Homo sapiens: one gene and its partners. The protein of the gene in region 4 interacts with the protein of the main gene of each other region in a biochemical or structural test. Each region holds a gene or a part of one and is shown on either strand. Other genes may lie near its edges.

Evidence for each region. The genes of interacting proteins can lie anywhere in the genome.
Region 1: the proteins of PDGFRB (region 4) and FYN form a complex in vitro, tested with the Homo sapiens proteins (one study listed by BioGRID).
Region 2: of the proteins of PDGFRB (region 4) and PTPRC, one has a biochemical effect on the other in vitro, tested with the Homo sapiens proteins (one large-scale study listed by IntAct).
Region 3: of the proteins of PDGFRB (region 4) and PTPRK, one has a biochemical effect on the other in vitro, tested with the Homo sapiens proteins (one large-scale study listed by IntAct).

The regions. Positions count from the first base shown.
Region 1 is NC_000006.12:111,694,194-111,699,513, forward strand, and holds part of FYN (tyrosine-protein kinase Fyn), read right to left. Parts: intron 2,264-5,320; coding exon 2,084-2,263; intron 512-2,083; coding exon 435-511; intron 336-434; coding exon 182-335; exon of another isoform or gene 1-181. UniProt on the Homo sapiens protein: Non-receptor tyrosine-protein kinase that plays a role in many biological processes including regulation of cell growth and survival, cell adhesion, integrin-mediated signaling, cytoskeletal remodeling, cell motility, immune response and axon guidance.
Region 2 is NC_000001.11:198,746,479-198,751,798, forward strand, and holds part of PTPRC (receptor-type tyrosine-protein phosphatase C isoform 1 precursor), read left to right. Parts: intron 1-1,630; coding exon 1,631-1,721; intron 1,722-2,937; coding exon 2,938-3,071; intron 3,072-4,013; coding exon 4,014-4,148; intron 4,149-5,320. UniProt on the Homo sapiens protein: Protein tyrosine-protein phosphatase required for T-cell activation through the antigen receptor. Acts as a positive regulator of T-cell coactivation upon binding to DPP4.
Region 3 is NC_000006.12:127,980,841-127,986,160, reverse strand, and holds part of PTPRK (receptor-type tyrosine-protein phosphatase kappa isoform b precursor), read left to right. Parts: intron 1-285; coding exon 286-440; intron 441-2,783; coding exon 2,784-2,919; intron 2,920-3,180; coding exon 3,181-3,330; intron 3,331-4,871; coding exon 4,872-5,045; intron 5,046-5,320. UniProt on the Homo sapiens protein: Regulation of processes involving cell contact and adhesion such as growth control, tumor invasion, and metastasis. Negative regulator of EGFR signaling pathway. Forms complexes with beta-catenin and gamma-catenin/plakoglobin.
Region 4 is NC_000005.10:150,148,200-150,153,519, reverse strand, and holds part of PDGFRB (platelet-derived growth factor receptor beta isoform 1 precursor), read left to right. Parts: exon of another isoform or gene 1-1,181; intron 1,182-5,320. UniProt on the Homo sapiens protein: Tyrosine-protein kinase that acts as a cell-surface receptor for homodimeric PDGFB and PDGFD and for heterodimers formed by PDGFA and PDGFB, and plays an essential role in the regulation of embryonic development, cell proliferation, survival, differentiation, chemotaxis and migration.

The sequences.
Region 1 (5,320 bases), on a different chromosome or scaffold from region 4:
CAACAGTCTCCCACCTGCAGAGCTGTCAAATTCCTGCCAGATCAAGGTGTCCAAACCAAGCTGAAGAATGACATTTCAAGTATTTTCTGAAGGAAGGGAAGGGAAGGAGGAAGGAAGGGCTGTGCAGTAAGTGACTGTTCTCACAGCTGTGATCACGAGCCATTGTCATTCAAGTGCCCACCTTGTCTTGCTGTGTACTCATTGTCTTCTATCAATCGGGCCAATCCGAAGTCAGCAATCTTGCATATGAGTCCATTCCCCACTAGAATGTTTGCTGATCGCAGATCTCTATGGATATAATTCATGCGCTCGATGTAAGCCATTCCTGCAGCCACCTGTGGAAACCCAGGGAACAGGACATGTTACACCACGACCCAATGTACTTAGACACGTCATTAAATCTATGGCACATCAAGTTACCCTGCAGGGCCTACCTGTGCTGCCATGTCCACAAGATTTGGTAATTTCAGAGCTCTTCCTTCTCCATCTTTTAAGAAATCCAGTAAACTTCCTATGAACAAAACATAAAATCATTTCAATTTACTTTGAAAGATAATTCCCAACAGAGAGCTGTATTTGGTTTTCTTATTAAAAGTAATAAGGTAGTCAAATGGAATAATGCCATCCACATGGGGGGACAAAAAGGTTTATATAAAAAAGCAGGGTAGAAAAAAGTATAGGCATGGAGAAGTAACAGTTACCTTTTAAAAACAAACAGCATTAATTCCATTTCTAGGAATAACAACATATATTTGATAAAACTAGAAGAAATGGGACTCAATCTCCCTGTATGTCATAAAGAGGAACCTATGAAGAACTGCACCTCTTCAATCCCATTCCCCAATCACCCCTGCACAAAGAATTGATGTGGGGAAAATACAGCCCAGCTGAGTGGTCCAAAACTGTGGTCCTGGGACCAGCAGCTACAATAACACAAGGGAACTTGTTAGATATGCAAATTCTCAGGTCCCATCCCAGATCGAGTAAATCAGAAACTTTGAAGGTTGGGTCCAGAAACTTGGGTTTTAAGAAGGCCTACAGGTGATTCTAATAATACAAGGTAAAGTTTGAGACTCACTAGCTTAGCTTATTTACAGATTTTGAATCAAGAAAAGACAATCTGAAGAATATGGGTGGGGCAGATGGTTCCCCTTAATTAGATCACAGCCAGCCAAGCCTTAAATCAGACATCTGAAATGAAACATTGGAAGCTTCAGAGCCACTATTATAACACAGCCTAAGAAGGCTTAGAACTAACACCAAAGCAGGGATAATCATTTGCAGAAGCTGGAGGCTTATGATGGTCATCAGTGATATTTTATGCTTTAATCACAAAGTTATTTACAAAATAACCCTGGATACAAAGGACAAACCGTTTGCCAGAAAAAAAAATTCCCATTAAATTTTAAAAGAAAGTACATGGAAAAGAAAAATTACACTGGTATCCTCTGATAAACAATGTATTGCCTTTTAAGGCTGTTTCTTGTTTGGTTCATCTATTTTTCCAAAACAAAATGATCTCTGGCCTTATCCCTAACAATGCTGGTTTGATTAGGAAGACAGAGGGGTTGTAGGGGAGAGAATGTGAGAATAAATGTGGTCTCTGAAAGCATGTAATTTCATCGCCTGACGTTTAAGAAGAGAGCTGGAAATAAAAAAGATGTTGAAATGATGGAGACTAAACTTAGCTTAGAGACCAGTGTCTGATATTAATTGTTTAGCCCTGCAAAAAGGAAATGTAACAAAAGCTACTACATTCAAAATAACAGCAAACTATCATAACCCTCCGTACCACCCTGATATTAAAAATGAATGTTTTAATTATGGAGAGGAGCTTGAATTTCTGACACACATAACATGTAAAAAGTATTTGGCATTTCATAAGGATTTGGGGTGGGGTAAACGCAAGGTTAGTCTGTTTTAAAAAATGTTTTCATTAACGAGCACATAACTGGTGGTTCCTAATGGGAATACTTGACCCAGGCAGAAACTAGAAAAGTAGCAAGTAGGAAACTTCCATTTCTCTCCCCTAAACAACCCCTTAAGGCACTGTGAGCTGGAGACAGGAGAGGTGTTGCCCAACCTTTGTTCATATACTCGGTGACGATGTAGATGGGCTCCTCAGACACCACTGCATAGAGCTGGACCAGCTTGTCGTGCTTCAGCTTCTTCATGATCTGCGCTTCCTCAAGGAATGATTCGGGGGACATTGTGCCTGGTTTAAGAGTCTTTATGGCTACTTTTGTGTTTCCATTCCAGGTACCTACAAACATCCCAGAATATGAAGTCAAACCAAAGATCTTCTTTTGATGGAAAAAGGTTTTGACCACCAGCTATTTGCATAAGATTAGATTTTAAATTTAAAACACTTAATACAGTTTTTGTTGAACAAAGACATTCAATTGCAAGGACTCTGTCAAGTATTTTAACAGAAAAAATGAGTTTATTTGTGGTTATGGCTAAGATGGCTATATTAAGATTTATAACTCATTAAAATTTTTTTAAATTTTGATATATTACCACTCTCTCTTTTTTTGGCTCAGTCATATGATTACACATTTATACCAAAAGCTCTGCACCATACAGTGATGAAAGTCCAGGGGTTGGAACAGGCCTGGCCATCTAATAGCTGTCCCTTAGGGAGTACAGTGTGCATGGAAGAAATTAGATTATTTAAGTTTATGGGGTGTGCCATTTAAAAATATGGCACCACATGAGGATGTCTGGAAATTACCTCTAGACTTTCAATGTCTGCAATGGACAAGTTACTTGACTGAGTCCTTGCACAGGTGTGCCAAGCATGCTGATAAGCACTGGCAAGGAGCTCACAGTCTGCTTGCCAATACTTCAACAAGGTAAGGCAAATTTCCTCAGCTTTACTGATGGCTAGCCACAAGAACAATGGCTTCTGTCAGGTAGGTAGACAGGGGAAATTAAACAGCAGCTGAGAGGGAACAGAAATATTTAAATTTAGCATGTTAAAAAAAAATCTAGCAAATCTGAAGGCAAGGCCTGGATTATGATTGTCCTCAGTTACCTCATCTGTAAAATATAGGAATGGAACTGGATTATCTTTTGGGTCTCTTTCAGCCCCAGCATTCAAAAAACAAAACCATACCTAGGTTCTTTGTGTATTCCATTATTAGACCTATGATGCTTAAGAATAACTTTATAAAGGGGAAGAAATCTGCTAATTTAGATTATTTTCTATTTGAAAAAGAAGACTGGTTTAAATTAAGATTTTTATATTTAATATAACTGACTTTGGAATTTAAGGATTCTGTAAATTGGAGTTCTTATTATCCTGTTAAAGACATGGTTCATACAATTACAACATGCAACCTACAAAATATAAATTATGAAAAAACAAGTGGCTTAAAGAAAAGTTCATTTAAACTTCATAAAATATCTGCCCACTAAGCATTCATGGGAAATTTGACAATTTATAAGTGATCTTTGCTATTTAAGAGTCAGCACCCAAAATTCTAAATACATTAAGATCTTCCTCTGTAATACAAACTTCGTCAATTACACAGACATCCATCCCAATTCTGATGGGCATGTTGTCTTGTGTTTATTGGAAAACAAAATGTGAACAGTATATGTAATGATTTAAAGTTGATATTTGTAAAATTTGAAAATAAATTTTCTAATAGGGTCCAATTCTCTGTGATTGTGTGAGTAATTTGACTAAAATCCTCTATTATTAGAGGGTGAATGAGGAAGAAGGAGGTCATATATTTTACGATACTTGAGATTAAGTCCAGAGAGAGATGGACACAATAATGTGGATTTATTAAACTAGCTAACTCATACATATATATGTGTATGTCTGTCTACTACCTATTTATCCACCTAACATACCTACATACATCTTTGTAGTACTTATCATTTGCTGGGCTATGTTTTAAGTGCTTTAACTGTATTAACTCTTTTTTTTTCTTTTCTTGAGACGGAGTTTCGCTTTTGTTGCCCAGGCTGGAGTGCAATGGTGCAATGGTGCGATCTCCGCTCACCGCAACCTCCACCTCCCAGGTTCAAGTGATTCTCCTGCCTCAGCCTCCTGAGTAGCTGGGATTACAGGCATGCACCACCATGCCCGGCTAATTTTGTATTTTTAGTAGAGGCAGGGTTTCTCCATGCTGGTCAGGCTGGTCTCAAACTCCTGACCTCAGGTGATCTGCCTGCCTTGGCCTCCCAAAGTGCTGGGATTACAGGTGTGAGCCACTGTGCCCGGCCACCTGTATTAACTCTTTTAATGCAGACCACACCTAAAGATCTATACCCACACGTAGCAAAGGGTACTGATCGATATTGTTTTTAATGAGTTCTGAGGAAGGAAGATAGAGGATTCCATAAGTATTAATATTGTTTTACTGAAACATGTTTTTGAGTGGGGCCTAAACCCATGAATTGTTTCTAAGCAAAGCTGTAACTGACCCAAAAGGGCTATAAAAGAAATTACAAAGGCCCAGTGCAGCCAGCCTTATCAATGACAATCAAATAAAGAGAAGTATGTATCTCTACTGAATATCTACTATCTGCAAGGGACTTTAAACATATTAACCCATGTAATCCTAAAAATAATCCTTTAAATAAGTATCATTCCAGCCGGGCGTGGTGGCTCACGCCTGTAATCCCAGCACTTTGGGAGGATGAAGCTGGCAGACCACCAGGTCAGGAGATCGAGACCATTCTGGCCAACATGGTGAAACTCCGTCTCTACTAAAAATACAAAAATTAGCTGGGCGTGGTGGCAGGCACCTGTAATCCCAGCTACTCGGGAGGCTGAGGCAGGAGAATCACTCGAACCTGGGAGGTGGAGGTTGCAGTGAGCCAATATCGCGCCATTGCACTCCAGCCTAGTGATAGAGCAAGACTCCGTCTCAACAACAACAAAAAGGTATCATTCCAATTTTACAGATGAAAAAACTGAGGCTTAAAGGAGTTAAATATGCCCCTTGTTCGTGGTTAATTAGCTAGTAAGGATTCAAACCCAGGCCCATTGAGCAAAACGTCCATGGTCTTTCTTATGGCTGCCCATATACAGTATCTTACCTTCCCATTTCTTAGGAAGAGGAAACACCAGATTCATAGTGTACTGGTTTCCTGTTCTGCGGGTGCCTTAATTAACCACATGAAGTAGGACAGATGAGCACAGCAAGGTATCAGCATATTCTGAAAATCTGGATGGCCTGTGCCCGTCTAGTTATCCAGGTTAAGTGTCTTTGTCCCAACGGCTGTGTGTGCATTTTTGTTCAAAACCATCCTTTTAATCGGCTTTGAGATGCAGCCAAAACAAAATGTGCCCTCTGCCTTA
Region 2 (5,320 bases), on a different chromosome or scaffold from region 4:
AGGGTGAAGTGACTGTTGGGAGAAGATGATTAAGATAAATGGGAGTTCACAGATGACAGACGATGGGCATCAGAGGGCAGGGAGGAAGGCACTGATGGGTTAGATGTAAGAGACTGGGTTGTATCTGAGGATACAAATAACCATTCAGGAATAAAAATCTGGGGAATGTGGATGCACTGGGAAGCTTAGACTTGTGATGGCAAGTGAAACAGGTAGAGATTTAAGAGTGACAGATCCTTTGTGTCTTAGATGAAGGTGAGCCATTAATTCCACCTATAATCCTGAGTATTGCTACAGGGCATAGGCTGCCTCGGTGACTACACTCACAAGAGCACAAGGTGTTGTAACAGTTTCCAAAACATCTGGTCCTTCATGCAGCTCATGGTGGTGTTCAAGTGGCCTAAAATTCAGTGATGATATTTTCTTTCACTCAATTACGTAGCAAAGAATGAGGTTTGAAACAGGGTGCCATAATTAGTTTGAATGAGGGTACTATGCTGAAAAAATATATGTCTATATACACACACGTATCTACATGCGTGTGTGTGTATATAAAATCTTACCGAATTGTACATGAGGAGCCTTCTCAGTTTCAGTTATTTGTAACATTATCTATTATCATTAAATATTATTCACTTGACAAATACTTATTTAAGGACTAGTGGAAAGACTGTAGGCAGGGGTGTCTTCCAGAAGAAATTGGTATTTAAACTGATACCTAGAGGGTAAGAAAAGTTATTAGAGCAACCAAAAGGGGAAAGGGTAGTTCAAGCAAGAAAAAAAAAAAAAAGTGTTTATGTGCCAAGAGTTGAAGAACAGCTTGGCCCTTCCAAGAATTGAGGAAGCTGGTTTGGTAGAAGTATTGAGGGACCCAGTAAGGTGTAAGGCTGGAGAAACAGTCAGGGGCGTATCAATAAAGACTTTTTATGCTATTTTGAGGAGGTTTGTTGTCCTCTTATAGTGATGGAAAGCTGTTCATCTTCAGAAGAGCATCTTCTGTTTTGTGTTTTAGAAGGATTAGAGCAGGCGAGATTGAAGACAAAGAGGCCAGTTAGGAAATTGTTGATGTTTTACAAGCGAGAAATGAAGGCAGACTGGATTAAGTAGGAAGAAAGAAAACTAAAAGGATTTGTGTATAGAAATGATGGATCTTTTCTGACTAATTAGGAACTGTGGGTGAGAGGAAAGCAATCTGGAAGGTGTAAACAAATTAAGAATGAACTTTCAAAACATGTGCCAAGTCTCCTAAGAATGTGTTGTCTCCAAAGTTTATTTCTGATCATTTAAAATAACTTACCATTGCTTTTGCAATATAGATCAACATCGGTCTAGTGGTTTCAATTTATATAAGAACAAACTATATTATTTTTCTATCAAGCAGCTCTGAAGAAGGAGACATAGTCTGTTACATATATATCTTTAGTGCATACTAGCCCTGTCAAAAGGACTAAATGCCTGAGCAATTTAAAGAAAAAAAATCAGAGGCAAACCGAAAAATTATGGCCTATAGGGAGCATATGCAAATTTCACAAAAATTAATGAAATGCTTTTCCTTAGGGAGCATCTTATGATGCAATAAGCCAATATTTACATTTTAAAGGAGTTTTTCTGTTTTTTTTTTTTTTTTCAGAGACTTCCTTCATATAGGAGCTGGAGGACACAGCACATTGGAAATCAAGAAGAAAATAAAAGTAAAAACAGGAATTCTAATGTCATCCCATGTATGTAGTTTATTTTTTTATTTTTTGTATCAGATAAAGTTAAGCTCTTTTGGATTTGTTTAATGTGGGACACACAGTCATATAAATTATCTTGAAGCAAGTTTTCAACATTTGGTTGTTAATAGGGAAGAAGTTACTAGGTATTAAAATACTAGTTATTGCAAGAACTTATAATCCTGAACATTTACAATGGGCTTTGGAGGGTAGACTGTATTCAGTGTTTTCTTTTTACCAATTATTTCAGAAATGGGTTGTCATAAAAGAGAAATATATAAAGCTGGGAGAAAAAAGAGCAAGTCTCTTTTACCCATTTTCTTTCATTTTTAGTTTATTTCAGTTATTTACTCCAGGGTAATTGACAAATAGTAAAAATTACATCCATTTGTTCTCTATATGTTTCCTTTTTATCCCTTATAACTGGGAGGTTGAAAGTAAGGGGAAAATACTCTATAAATTCTAAATCTTCAAATTTAACAGATCAAAATATGCACAGTTTCAATACTTGAATTCTACTATTTAAGCATATTAAAATGATCACATATGGTAATTTTATTCAGCTGCATAAACTAAAATTAGCATGGATAAAATATAACACAAGTTGATAAATTAGATGACCAAATAAATCAGATCAGTGCATGGTTGACCTAGTTAATTTTCATAGGAGTCCTTATGAATGTAGTTTAAAATATGGAATTGATGGTGATATGGTTAATCAAATCATTTGACCAAGTTATTATAAATTATAGAAATTAAGAAACAGTGAGAAATTATAGGTCAAATAATTTTCTGGGCTAAATAATTAATCAAAGCTACCCATATAAGATTGTTAATTTAATATTACTGGAGTATAATTGAGGGAAAAAATCTACGCTATGTATTTTGTAAACTTATATCAAGCAGAATTATAATAGTCCATGGGAAATTAAAGTATATGTATCAAAGATTAAATAATCATATATAATGATATGATATCTCTTTGTTGTTTGACATGGAATTATGTTCCATGTTTTTTCCTGGAATCCTTTTTCTTAGACTTTTGTTGTATAATTTGTTTATCGACAAGTACTGAATTTTATATAGGATCTTATTTCATGTAGATCAGTAAGTTTTCATAATACAATCTGTCCCTTTTTAAATACTTTCAAATTTCCACATGACAATGAAGAAGAAATTTAATTTTTTCAAGGAAGACTTACTACTGATTTATTTCACATAGATGACTATAACAGAGTGCCACTTAAACATGAGCTGGAAATGAGTAAAGAGAGTGAGCATGATTCAGATGAATCCTCTGATGATGACAGTGATTCAGAGGAACCAAGCAAATACATCAATGCATCTTTTATAATGGTAGGTACTTAAATTGCCAAAACCCAAGATCCAAACATTTTAAAATAATATCTATGTTATTAGGGCCATTCATTAAGCGATTTTATAAAAGAATAATGAGCTTGGTCATAACTACATATAGATTGACATGAGAGTTTCAATTTCAATGCTACAATTTAACTTAATGAAAGATTTAAAAATACTATAACCTAATAACCTGAGACAAAATAAGATAATGCTATTGGTTATATTTTATGACAAATATAGCTATAATCACATCAATTTTAAAAATAGTAAAATTTGAGCAAATACAAGTATTTGAAAATGTTTATACATACTCAGATACCCAAATTGTAGGCAATGACAAATTTGTATATTTGTATGGTTAGAAACTTTTCATTCAGATAAACTGAATTATTAGGTGAGTCTGTGTCATATCCCCCCACTTTTTTAATTAACTGAGAATTCAAACAATGAAACTTTAGTCATTTATTAAATATTTATTATTTATACACTGTTGGATTTACTTATTTTCCAAAGTTTCCTAAAGCACACATTCATAGAATATTAGTTTAATTAGGAAATATAATAAGAATGTAAAGACACTAATTAAAATTAGTATAGACACGATGAAGGTAATTTGAAATGCTTAAGTAATTCCTTTTTACAATCACATTAACCTTTATAGAGAAACAAAAATGTGTGTCTTTTGTGGAAAGGAAAATTTGTTTCGCAAGATATGTTGTAATCTTGATTTCACATTATTAGCTAAGAATTACTATTATCTGTATAATTATTTTACATATAGCTATTACATTGTTTCTTGTAAGAAACATAAGAATATTACTATTTGTATGTAACAGCATTGATATCAAACTGACTATATTTCCAAATGGTTACTTTAAGAATCTACTGAGCTCTCTTCTGTAGTAACGAAGTCCCACCCTTTTTTTGTCTAAAAAGAGCTACTGGAAACCTGAAGTGATGATTGCTGCTCAGGGACCACTGAAGGAGACCATTGGTGACTTTTGGCAGATGATCTTCCAAAGAAAAGTCAAAGTTATTGTTATGCTGACAGAACTGAAACATGGAGACCAGGTTTGTACTTTTGAGGATTTTCTTTTAAGCCTTTCTGTCATAAAACGTCATTCTCTAGTCTTGGATTGCTTGCTTCATCGCCATACCCACGTCTTTTTTTATCCCTCCATCACATAATTCTGTCTGCTCAGTCTTACCCCTTTCACCCTGGTGTTGGCCTCCATCAGCTGTGTCTGGATTCTGACAGTCTCTCCTGTTTGTCCCCTCCAGTCTTGCATGCTGCTCACAGATTAGCCAGGATGCAGCAATGTCAGCGTCACAGCAAATAACAGCTACATTTTCACGCTGTTTTCCTCATTTTCTCAAGATAAAAGCCAAGATCTTTTTGTGATATCCAGCACCCTGGACAATCACCCCCTCATGTGTCTTTCATCTTCCTCCCATTTTTATGTTTTCCATCCTCTCCACTCTGGACAAGCAGGTTTCATGCCCAAGCCTAAACACGCCATTTGCATTGTCATCACTGAGTCTAAACTTATTGATATTCCATGTAACTAAATGTGTGCTGTCTTCCAGTTTTGACCCTATTCTTTTAACAAGACCAAACTCCTGAAAAATGTATCTATATCATCCTTTCTTTATTCCCATATAATATTTATTGCCATAAAAGTCTATAGTTGAAGGTGAATCTAAGCTATAATTTGATTTTTTTACTTAATGCTTGTGACAGATATTTTATCCTTTTCTTAATGTCTTCAGTTATTATTAAAATTTCCCTGGTGGTAGATCTCACTCAGCTTTAGCACCAACCACATTATCTGACATATGTTCAAGCCTATTCAGTGAATAACCTTATAAGTATGCAAAAGATTTATGCTTTTTTATGCCCCTCTCTCTCCCCTAAATCTCACTCTTTCTCACCCTCACCTGGTCCCCTTCCCCTGTACATGGAAAGTTGCTTTTTATGTTTTTTGTTTTAAAGGAATATAAGTCCAGATTTCTAGCATGGAATTCCCACAATCCTTTCCTTCATATAAATTGTGAAAGCTGGGAAACAGGATGGAAGTACCGGCAGGACTCCCTGTCTTTGTCAGAAATTGTGGGGTTGTAGTTGGTAGACAACAGTTTGTAGTAAGAAGAAACACTTTTGTGGTTCATCTACTCTTCAATCTGGCCCTTTCCTTAGCTATGTAGACAAAATATATAAAGCTGCTTATGGTGTTGGTCAACAA
Region 3 (5,320 bases), on a different chromosome or scaffold from region 4:
CAGCAAGAAACAAGCTGTCAAAGTAAATAAAATTTACCCAGACTTTTAGAACTGAGCAAGACTTATAATTTTCTTTCTTTGGCAGTTGTCTGACAATAAAGGTAAGCTCCTAGTCCATGTTAGGCCTTCATTTTATTATATTTTTTTTTTAAGAAAAGGCATAGTCTTTCGTAAAGGTTTTATTGTTATCATTGTCAGTTGGGTCTGTACCCATAATTGTGTTTAATGGCTTTATTTTGGCCATTAAAATGGCTTTTGAAAACATTTCTTTCCATCTTTGCACAGAGGGGGTACAATGAAATCCGTGAAGTTAAACAGTTCCATTTCACGGGCTGGCCTGACCATGGAGTGCCCTACCATGCTACAGGGCTGCTTTCCTTTATCCGGCGAGTCAAGTTATCAAACCCTCCCAGTGCTGGCCCCATCGTTGTACATTGCAGGTAAGTGGTGGTCCAAATGGTATTGACTGTATGCAATCAGCTTTTTTTAGAGTATCAAGACAAGGCTTTTGAGCACAAAAACTAATGTGTGCTTACGAAGTTCCAGCTTGCTTGTATTATAGATAAAGTAAAACAGCAATAAAATAAAAGTTGGCTGTAAGTAGTCTATAAAACAGGAACTTAAGAAATACATACATTCATCCTAATGCGTGTAGTGTTATCCACAATTTAAAGTATAGAAACTCTGCCTTTTAATGGCAACATCTGTGTTTTTTGTTTTTATCACTTTTGCAAATCCCATATTGTATAGAATGCTAGGTTGAAATAGACATTTCTTGCCAATCTAGAAAATTCCCAATAGAATTCCAGCTTTAAAACTAAATTTCAGACATACAGAGTTACTAAATGGCCTAAATTGCAAGGATTTGTGCTGCAAAACAGCTATTTAAAAATTTTTTTTAAAGAATTCACATTAGAGGACCTTGAAAACTGCATCAGTGAGATTCAGCAAATATATGCCAAAAAACACGAGCATTATATCCAGACTTTCTTCTGATTAGAAACTTCTCTTAAAACAAGCATTTAGAGATACTAAAAGCAAATTACATGGCCTCATTTTGAGGTGTGACCAGAAAAATAAGTACTGAATCTGAAAAGCGTTTCCTAAATGATGCTGCACACCATTCTCATACGCTCTTCCCTCCAAGCTACATAATAGGTTGTACCTAAGCATTTTTTGCTTTCTGAAAATCCAACCTATTCAGGATTTAAATAACCATGTATAAAAGAGGGGAAAAAAAGCAGAGAATGAAGTAAAGGTAAAACGTCCCATAGGATCAGATACTATGTACCCTGAAAACAAAAAAAACTTCCTTTCAATCCTCCTCATGAAATCTGATGTACTCTTAAATTACATTCCTGTCTCCAACTCTGGGAACAGTGATTGAGAAGATGGTAGGGGACAAAGATAAATAGAGATAGCCACAATATCTTTTGCTTAAATTTCTAAAAGAACAGTGAGTTTAAGAGAAGTGACCAAATCTGAATAACAAGGAAATAATGTTACTAGCCTATCTAAGCACTTAGAAAATGAGATAAATAGGTTTTCAACTTAAGAATTTCTTGATTTATCAGAGAGGTTTACTTTCTTATGAATTGCTTGCTTCAGAAATGCTCCAAGATTCTCAGATACTCTCTTGAAACAGAAGTGTCATTTTCCACCTACACTGAAGCATCTCTGGACTACAAAGTGAATTCCCCACTCCCCGCAAAAAATCCTTATTTTGTTTTCCCCATTGACTTCTATATATAAAATTGGAGAAACATTCCCCAGCTGCAAAATAATCACAGTATATTACAATTAAAGGACACAAAATATGGTGAGATAGAGGAATACATTTTAGTGTTCTGTACCACTGTAGGATGAGTCTGGTAAATGATAATGTTTAGTTTGAGAGAGCTAGAAGGAAGATACTGAATGTTCACAACATAAATGATACATGTTTGAGAGGACGCATATGCCAATCACCCTTTTCTGATCACTCTACATTATGTGTATTAAAATATCACTATGTACCCAAGAATATATACATTATTATTTGCCAATTAAAGACTAAAATATAATTTTTTAAAAGTATTTTTAAAAATTAACTTTAGAATTAAATACAGTAAGATAGCGGCTAGCCTTTTGATTTGCTGGGAATCATATTCTACACCTAATAATTCATTTTCATTTCTCTTCAGATCATGATTCAAATAGTCTTTACACTGTTACTCTCCTCCCCTTTGATAACCGTCATTCTCTTGCCCACCCCCACCATTTGCATTTCCTGTGAAGCGTGGCTCCTCAGATTTCCCGTTTAAAGTTTTGGGAATTAATTTTCTTTTGCCTTGGTATTTACAAGAGGTGAAGACAGTGAGTGAGCCAACATTCTCACATTGTTGCCAGAGGACACACAACTAGATGAATCTAAAAATATTCAATCTTGAGTTAAATTTTGAAGCGTGAATCTGCCACTTGATCAATTCTATGAACTTGAAATTATGTGTATTAAATTTACATAAAATGAAAATTGTGAGAGAGGTGTGGAACTTAAACAGTGTTATTTTCAATTTGAAAATAATTTAGAACTCTTGTTCCAATCTTTAGTTTATACCAAAGCAGATACTCTGCATGAAGCTATTTGTACATTAATAAGCTTTTACACAGCAGGGACAAGTGCTGTGCCTTGCAGTTTGTTAAATCAATTTGATTCTACCTATCTGACAGTGGAAAAAGTCCTTATTTAAGGTTATGAAGACTAACATGCTTCTTACAATTCATTAAATTTAATTGTTTTTCAGTGCTGGTGCTGGACGAACTGGCTGCTACATTGTGATTGACATCATGCTAGACATGGCTGAAAGAGAGGGTGTTGTTGATATTTACAATTGTGTCAAAGCCTTAAGATCTCGGCGTATTAATATGGTCCAGACAGAGGTATGTAGATTTACCTGTAGTGGACTTTTTTTTATTTTTTATTTTTTTTGCAAACAAAGAGTAGATGTCTCTCATATATACTCTACTCAACCGAAAGAGATGTTTTTCATGTGTAATCAATATTAGCTGAGTCATATAGAAAAATATTGGTGTTTTAATTCATATTTCCATATAGAGAAAATTTTCTGTATTTCCTAACTTTGATGACAGAAAAGTGATACTAAAACTAGTACAAAATTTTCTTTTTCATTCTTTTGGTAGGAACAGTACATTTTTATTCATGATGCCATTTTAGAAGCCTGCTTATGTGGAGAAACTGCCATACCTGTCTGTGAATTTAAAGCTGCATATTTTGATATGATTAGAATAGACTCCCAGACTAACTCTTCACATCTCAAGGATGAATTTCAGGTATTAACTATTTCTAAAACCTCTTTTGTGACTTACTACAATTTGTTCTGGGCGCTAGGAATCCTTTCAAGGAAGGTCTTTCAAGTCAAATTTATAACCTTTGATCCTGTTTTAAATACAATACGTATCTCTTTCATTATACATATTATATAGTCACTTTTCTATTGATGAATTTATATCTACTATATCCAAAATGACAAATAAGTTCAGACTTAGGGAAGAGCAAAGGGGAAAGGTATCATAAAAGTCAAAAATTAGGCCAGGCGCAGTGGCTCATGCCTGCAATCCCAGCACTTTGGGAGGCCGAGGCGGGTGGATCACGAGGTCAGGAGATCGAGACCATCCTGGCTAACACGGTGAAACCCCGTCTCTACTAAAAAGACAAAAAAAATTAGCCAGGCATGGTGGCGGGTGCCTGTAGTCCCAGCTACTCGGGAGGCTGAGGCAGGAGAATGGCGTGAACCTGGCAGGCGGAGCTTGCAGTGAGCCGAGATTGCACCACTGCACTCCAGCATGGGCAACAGAGCGAGACTCCGTCTCAGAAAAAAAAAAGAAATAATAACAAGTCAAAATGAGTGGTGATTTGTGTGTATTTAGTGTGTATTTATAGCCTTTTTTTCATGCAGTCATACAGATTTTGACCTGGGTCACTCACAATGTGATGAGATCAAGCACATTAATTATAACTGAGTCTGGGTTCAGTGGCAGCTCACACCTATAATCCTAGCACTTTGGGATGCCAAGGCAGGCAGATCTTGAGGTCAGCAGTTCAAGACCAGCCTGGCCAACATGGCAAAACCTCATCTCTACAAAAAATATAAAAAATAGCCGGGTGTGGTGGTGCATGCCTGTAGTCCCAGCTACTCAGGAGGTTGAGATGGGAGGATTGCTTGACCCTGGAAGTTTGCTTAACCCTGGAAGGCTGTGGTGAGCCAAGATATTGCCACTGCACTCCAACCTGGGCAACAGAGTAAGACCCTGTCTCAAAAATAATAATAGTAATAATAATAATAAATGAAGTTTGTAGTACATGTTATTTCAAAATAGCCCTAAATGTTTTCACTGCCCTTAAAACACCCCTGAAGGTGGGTGAAAATAAAATCAAGGGCAGAGACCAAATTCTTTGATTGTTGATCCAGTGCTCTTTCCAACATGCCATAGCTTATCTTCAAATATGGCAAGCCCAGATGTTACTACAAATGATACCGTTTCCCAGTGTGATGAAGGGTCATTATCATAATGGACTGCCCGATTGCATTTTCTTTGGTTAAGGCAATGCATTTTGCAGGTAGCAGTGTTGTTTAGCGTACCTTTTCCTTTTAAGAAGAGGAGCCCTGAACAATGTGTGTCTTGTTTCTTTGTCACTTCTCAGGCTTCATTAGCTTTAACTACAAGGTCTATCAGCCTGTCATAGTAGCAAATGCCATTGCCTCGCACAAATCCTTCACTTTCTACTTGGCCTTCTAAATTCCTGATGGATCTGTGTTATACTGTTAAATGGGTCACACTGTCTTTTAACCTGGGTTCTCTTTTCTTTTTAGACTCTGAATTCAGTCACCCCTCGACTACAAGCTGAAGACTGCAGTATAGCGTGCCTGCCAAGGAACCATGACAAGAACCGTTTCATGGACATGCTGCCACCTGACAGATGTCTGCCTTTTTTAATTACAATTGATGGGGAGAGCAGTAACTACATCAATGCTGCTCTTATGGACGTAAGAGACTGCCCTCTTTGTTAGTGTAGAGTGTTGTGGAAAGCTACATAATGCAACTGAACACTGGCTAGTTTTCTTTTCGAGGAAATTAAAATAACCTAAAAAGGAAAAGTGGAAACTTTTATTGAAACACATTTTTTTGGAAAATGATTTTAGGTTTTCCCTATAGAGATTCTTAAGAACTGTCATTTTTATAGCTTTATTGTAGATTTGGAGCTTGATTGTCAATTATTATATTCATGTAGTAAATATTGCAAGTTATAAATTTCATCTTA
Region 4 (5,320 bases):
AGGCTAAGTGACTTTCCCAGGGCCATACGGTGAGTTAAGGTGGTGTTTAGGCTGAAGTCTGCCTGACTCTAAAGGCTTACCTCGTGCTCCCCGGGAAGCTCCCAGTCAGAGGGAAGAATCTCCATCCTCCTGCAGAGCCTGCTCCTGGCTTCAGCACCTTCCCCAGCAGAAAGTGCAGCCTCAGGTCTGACTGCTCCAAGGTCTGCCCGGGCCCTGGCTTGGTCTTGAGAGAGGAAAGAGACCATCTGGTCAGCACCCTCCTCCCAGACAGCAGTTATCAGCAGCCCCCCTCCTCTGCGGGAAGAAGAGCTGGGACTTATAATTGCCCACACATGTGGGGCAGGCAGTGGAAAGCACCGTGGATCCAGAGTCAGGAGACCCAGTGCTTGCCCTGGCTTGATTTAAATCCACCGTGTGGCCAACCTCAGACCCCCCACATCCCATCTCTGGGCTCCTTCCGCAGCTGGGAGGCAGTGAGCGCTGTGGGTAACCAGCACCAGGCTTGGGCATCAGATGACTATGCATTGACCCCGAGTCAGTTTCTGGCTGACTGTGTGACCCCGGGGCAGCACCTTGCCTCTCTGGGCCTCAATCTCCTTCTCTGTGAGCAGCAGGACCGTGTGTGGGCTCCATGAGACAACAGCATTGGCAAGGTGCTTACCACAGTTCCTGCACTTCACAGCTGGACCTCTGGCCACTGGCTGAGAGAACCACTGCTCTCCTGGCCTCCTGCATTGGAACACTTGGCTGTGAAATTAATCTGCAACCTGCAAAAGGCTCTGCCCACAGAAGGGACCTGGACACCATGTATGTTCCAAAGATCCGTGTCCATCCTCCAGGCACAGGCCACAGTCTGACTCTGAGACCAGCTGCCTTCTAGGCTAAAGGAGGGTGCTCTGGGCATTGGCTCAGAACAGGCTGCTGCTGAATGCAGTGGGAAGGGAGAAAGGGATGAAAAGGTCTTCTGAAATGCCCACCCATTTCTTGCATTTGATTCAGAACCCAGTGGGCAGTGGGTTCTTGGAATGGGAATCTTTTTGGTGCCCCCTGTCTTCTGACCCAGAGCGTTAGGAGGGAAGGGAAGGGGTGTTGGGCCCCTTCCCAGGGTCAGGGCTTGTAGCACCTCAGCTGGGAAGCAGTGTGAGCATGATGATATAACAGGAACCAACTCGTTCTTAGCACTTTCTGTGTCTACTTCAATTGTGCTTTACATCTGTTACCTCAAAGTTGCTGCTGTATTCCTCAGCACTTGGAACATGCTGGGCATTCAGGACATTCTTAGTAAATATTTACTGGATTAATTTAACCATCGAGGCTGGGCACGGTGGCTCACACATGTAATCCCAGCACTTTGGGAGGCCGAGGCGGGTGGATCACCCGAGGTCTGGAGTTTGAGACCAGCCTGGCCAACATGGTGAAACCCTGTCTCTACTAAAAATACAAAAATTAGCCAGACGTGGTGGTGCGCACCTGTATCCCAGCTACTCAGGAGGCTGAGGCACTAGAATTGCTTGAATCCAGGAGGCGGAGATTGCAGTGAGCCTAAGCGACAGGGCAAGACTGTCTCAAAAAAAATAAATAAATAAATAAATAAACCGTCACAGCAACCTCAAAATTAGATATATAAACTCTCCCCACTTTTTTTTTTTTTTTTTTTTGAGATGGAGTCTCACTCTGTTGCCCAGGCTGGAGTGCAATGGTATGATCTTGGCTCACCGCAACCTCCGCTTCCCAAGCTCAAGTGATTCTCCTGCCTCAGCCTCCCAAGTAGCTGGGATTACAGGCGTGTGCGCCACCATGCCCAGCTAATTTTTATATTTTTAGTACAGATGGGGTTTCACCGTGTTGGCCAGGCTGGTCTCGAACTACCTGACCTCAAGTGATCCGCCTGCCTCAGACTCCCAAAGTGCTGGGATTACAGGCGTGAGCCACCGCACCCAGCTAAACTCTCCCCATTTTACAGGTGAGAAAGTGCGCAGAGTCAGTTGCCTAAAGTCCCACAGCTCGGAAGTGGCGGAGCTGGGATTTGCACCTGGGTGTTTCTGACTCCAGATCCCCTTGATGAGAGGCTGGATGGGGCCTGGGATGCCCCTGGGGATCCAGTGTAAACCCTGAGAATGTGCCTCAGCTGTGGGGGCCCTCAGCATTCCAGAGGTAGTCATCAGACCCTAGAACCCTATGGGACTGTGCACAGATCGTTCCCTTCTGGGGCCTCAGTTTTCCCATCAGTCAAACGAGGAGGTTGACCCAGATGATGGTAAATCTTTCTTCCAGCCCTAAAACAATTTCAGGATTCCAAGCCATGCCAGCCCAGATTGGCAGCTGCACAAGCCTTGCTGTGTACTCAGGGATCATGCATATTTAATTTCACAATGAAAGGGTTTTTTTCTTACCCTTTTTCTACACATTACAGAAAGAGGTCAGGATCGATGACCACTAATGGAAAACTTTAACCTGCAATAACAATGAGGAACTTTCTGACAATTAGTGTGGCCCCTTAACGTGCTCAGTTTCTTGAGGAGCTCAGAGGGCTCCTACAGTTCCCACATGCCCATTTTCCTGAGATACTGAGCAGGGAGGGTCGGGGAGGAAGGCCCACTAGGGGCTGTGTGTGGATGCTGTAACCCTTTAGGTCTCTTCCAGTGCTGCGTTTTCAAACCTCATATGCTCTAATTTCAAGAGGAAGCAAGGCTTTGGCCCAGATGAGTGATGGGATCCAGAGGTGAGGGGGGGAATGGACACAGGGACCTACCTCTGGTGGGAGTGGGTGTGAAATTCCCATGCTTGTTGCTTCCAGTGTGGAAGCCCACTTCACATCCCTCCTGAGCCCTCAGGCCCAGATCCTCAGGATAAAGTCTTCCTGAACCTCCAAGCCTTAGCCCCAGAGCCCACCCTGCCCCCGCCCCCTACATCCACCAGATGCTTCCTGGGGTAGCCCACCCCCAGCCTGGTGCAGGAGGCTGAAAATCAAAGTGTACTGCTTTAACCGCATTAAAATCCCCTCCTCTCCTCAATTCAGATCAGGGCTATTTGATGTCTCAGGTGCCTGAAACCTTTTATCTGCCAGAGGTACCAGCTTCTCCGCCCTGTGATGGAGAGGGCTGTCCCTTGGGAGGGTCAGGGGGTCTGAAAGTTCCTGAATGTCAGAGATGAAAAGGACTTTTGGGGGTCACCTGATCCAACTGCTTTATTGTATGGATGGGAACTAAGGTCCAGAGAGGGGAAGGGTTGCACCTAAGGTCCGTACAGATCATTGGTGATGACGCTGAGCCTGGGACCTGGGCTCGCCTTTGTTCCACCACAGGTGCTGGGTCTTTACCATCTCTCTGAAGGCCTGGAGAGACCCAGCTCCACCTCTGTGGTTCAGGGCTCAGCCTCCAGGTCTGTCTGGGCTATGGGCTGAAAAGGAGCAAAGCCGTCCCAACAAGAAATGGGAATCTTCCTGGGTGGTTTGCTGGACCCCCGAGCTTTTGGCCATACCACTTCTTCATTCTAATCATAGTTTCCTCTTATAATAAAGTGGGGAGAAGCCAAGGGAGAAGTTTAGTGGCCCCCAGAGGTCCATCCAGCTCTGCCCTTAGCCCCTGAGAGTTCCTACCATGCTTCTTGTGACTGTTTTGCCACATCCTCATTGCTGCTGCTCTGTTACCTTCCCTTCTGAGAAGTGGAAACCCAAGGGCAGTGACACCACCAGCTTCTTCACTTCTGAGGCTGAGCCTCAGTGGTTATAGGGTGGGGCAGGGTTTCCAGTTAGCCTTAGAGGGGTAGGGCTCAGCTTTCTAAACATGTCACAGAAGCCCTGGCCCCTCCTGGCCCAGAGCATTGAAGGTAAAGGTGCAGGTTTGACCTGGTGGACTGTGGGTGGCTCCCATCTCACCTGTATTTGTGTCCTTATCAGTGTCCAACCCAGGGCCTATCTGCTGAATGGATAGTGAAATAATCACTAGATAAATAAATGCATGTAGAGATGCATAAATGGATTGGTGGGTGGGTGGATGGATGGATGGATGGATGGATAAATCGATGGAGACAGACAGATGGCCTCCCCTTTAGTCCAGGGCACAGAGATGGCTTCATGAGTACTCATCCTCCTGAGGGCCCCATGCTTAGAAGGGCCTATGTTTGGTTTAATGCTCTGCAGTCATCATTTTGAAATTGTTAATAATTTTTAACAAAGAGCCCTGCATTTCCATTTTGTGCTTGCCCCACAAATTATGTAGCTTGTCCTGCCAGGGAGTTCAGGCTGAGTTTGGGACGGCTTCATCCCCAACACTGGCCTTGCAGCCTCCACTGTCCCCATCCTAATCCACAGCCTCCCACTAAATGCCAGCCTGCTGGTGTCATCCTCCTGCATGGAGGCCCCCTCCCCACAGTGCCTGGAGTTACAGCATTGCCCTGCCAAGCCAGCAGCTACTACCCGCCATCACTATCAACACCTTGAAAAGTTGGTGGTCCAGAGAAAATCCTCACACAGCACCGCAGACCTTTCCTGAAGTCTCCCTGCCTCCTTCCCTGGCCTCCTGCTGCCTCCTTCCCAGGCCATCACCTACCTGTTTGCTGAAGAGCCCCAGTTTCTAGCCCAACAGATCTCTCCCTGCCATTTCTCCCAGATGCCTTTCATCTCTCACAGAGCCCTGGCCATACCTTTCCCTGGCATCATCTGCCAAAAAACTCAAGAAACCCTGGAGGCCTAGCTCAAGGCCACCTCCCTCAGGAAGCCATACCCGCTCTCCCCACTGGAGTAATCATATACTGTTGTTAGTCACCATTTACTGGGCACCTATGATGTGCCAAGTGCTGTGCGTCATCATCTCTGGCCCTCCCAGAAATGGAAAAGGAGGTCTCCCATGCCATTTCCCAGGAAATTGGGACTCAGATAAGTTAAACTCAGAGAACTGGGGCTTGGACCCAGGAATAAGTGGCTTCCAGCTGGAACCACTGCTCCCAGCCTGGCGGGGCTCCCATCCCTGCCCTGGATGGCATCAGGCGCAGCCTGTTGGCTTCAGAGTGCCATATGTCTGTTCTGCCCTCACCAGCTCATCTCCATCACCTCCCTGGAAGGAAAGAGTCACCATTGCCTATCCATGCCAGTTCCCTAGCCTAGTGAATCCTGTGTTATTAGGAGGCAGCCGAGGGCCCAGGACTGAAGAGCTGACCCTACAGAGCCATTTAATCTCTCATATCGTGTAAGCGTTTACTGAGCACCTACTGTAGGCCTAATTCCATATTAGGAAGTTGAAGAGAGTCCAGATCGTTGTTAGGTAGGTATCCTGATTTGTGGGAAGTCATATTAAAGGACTAAGACAAAAGTTCAGGAAAG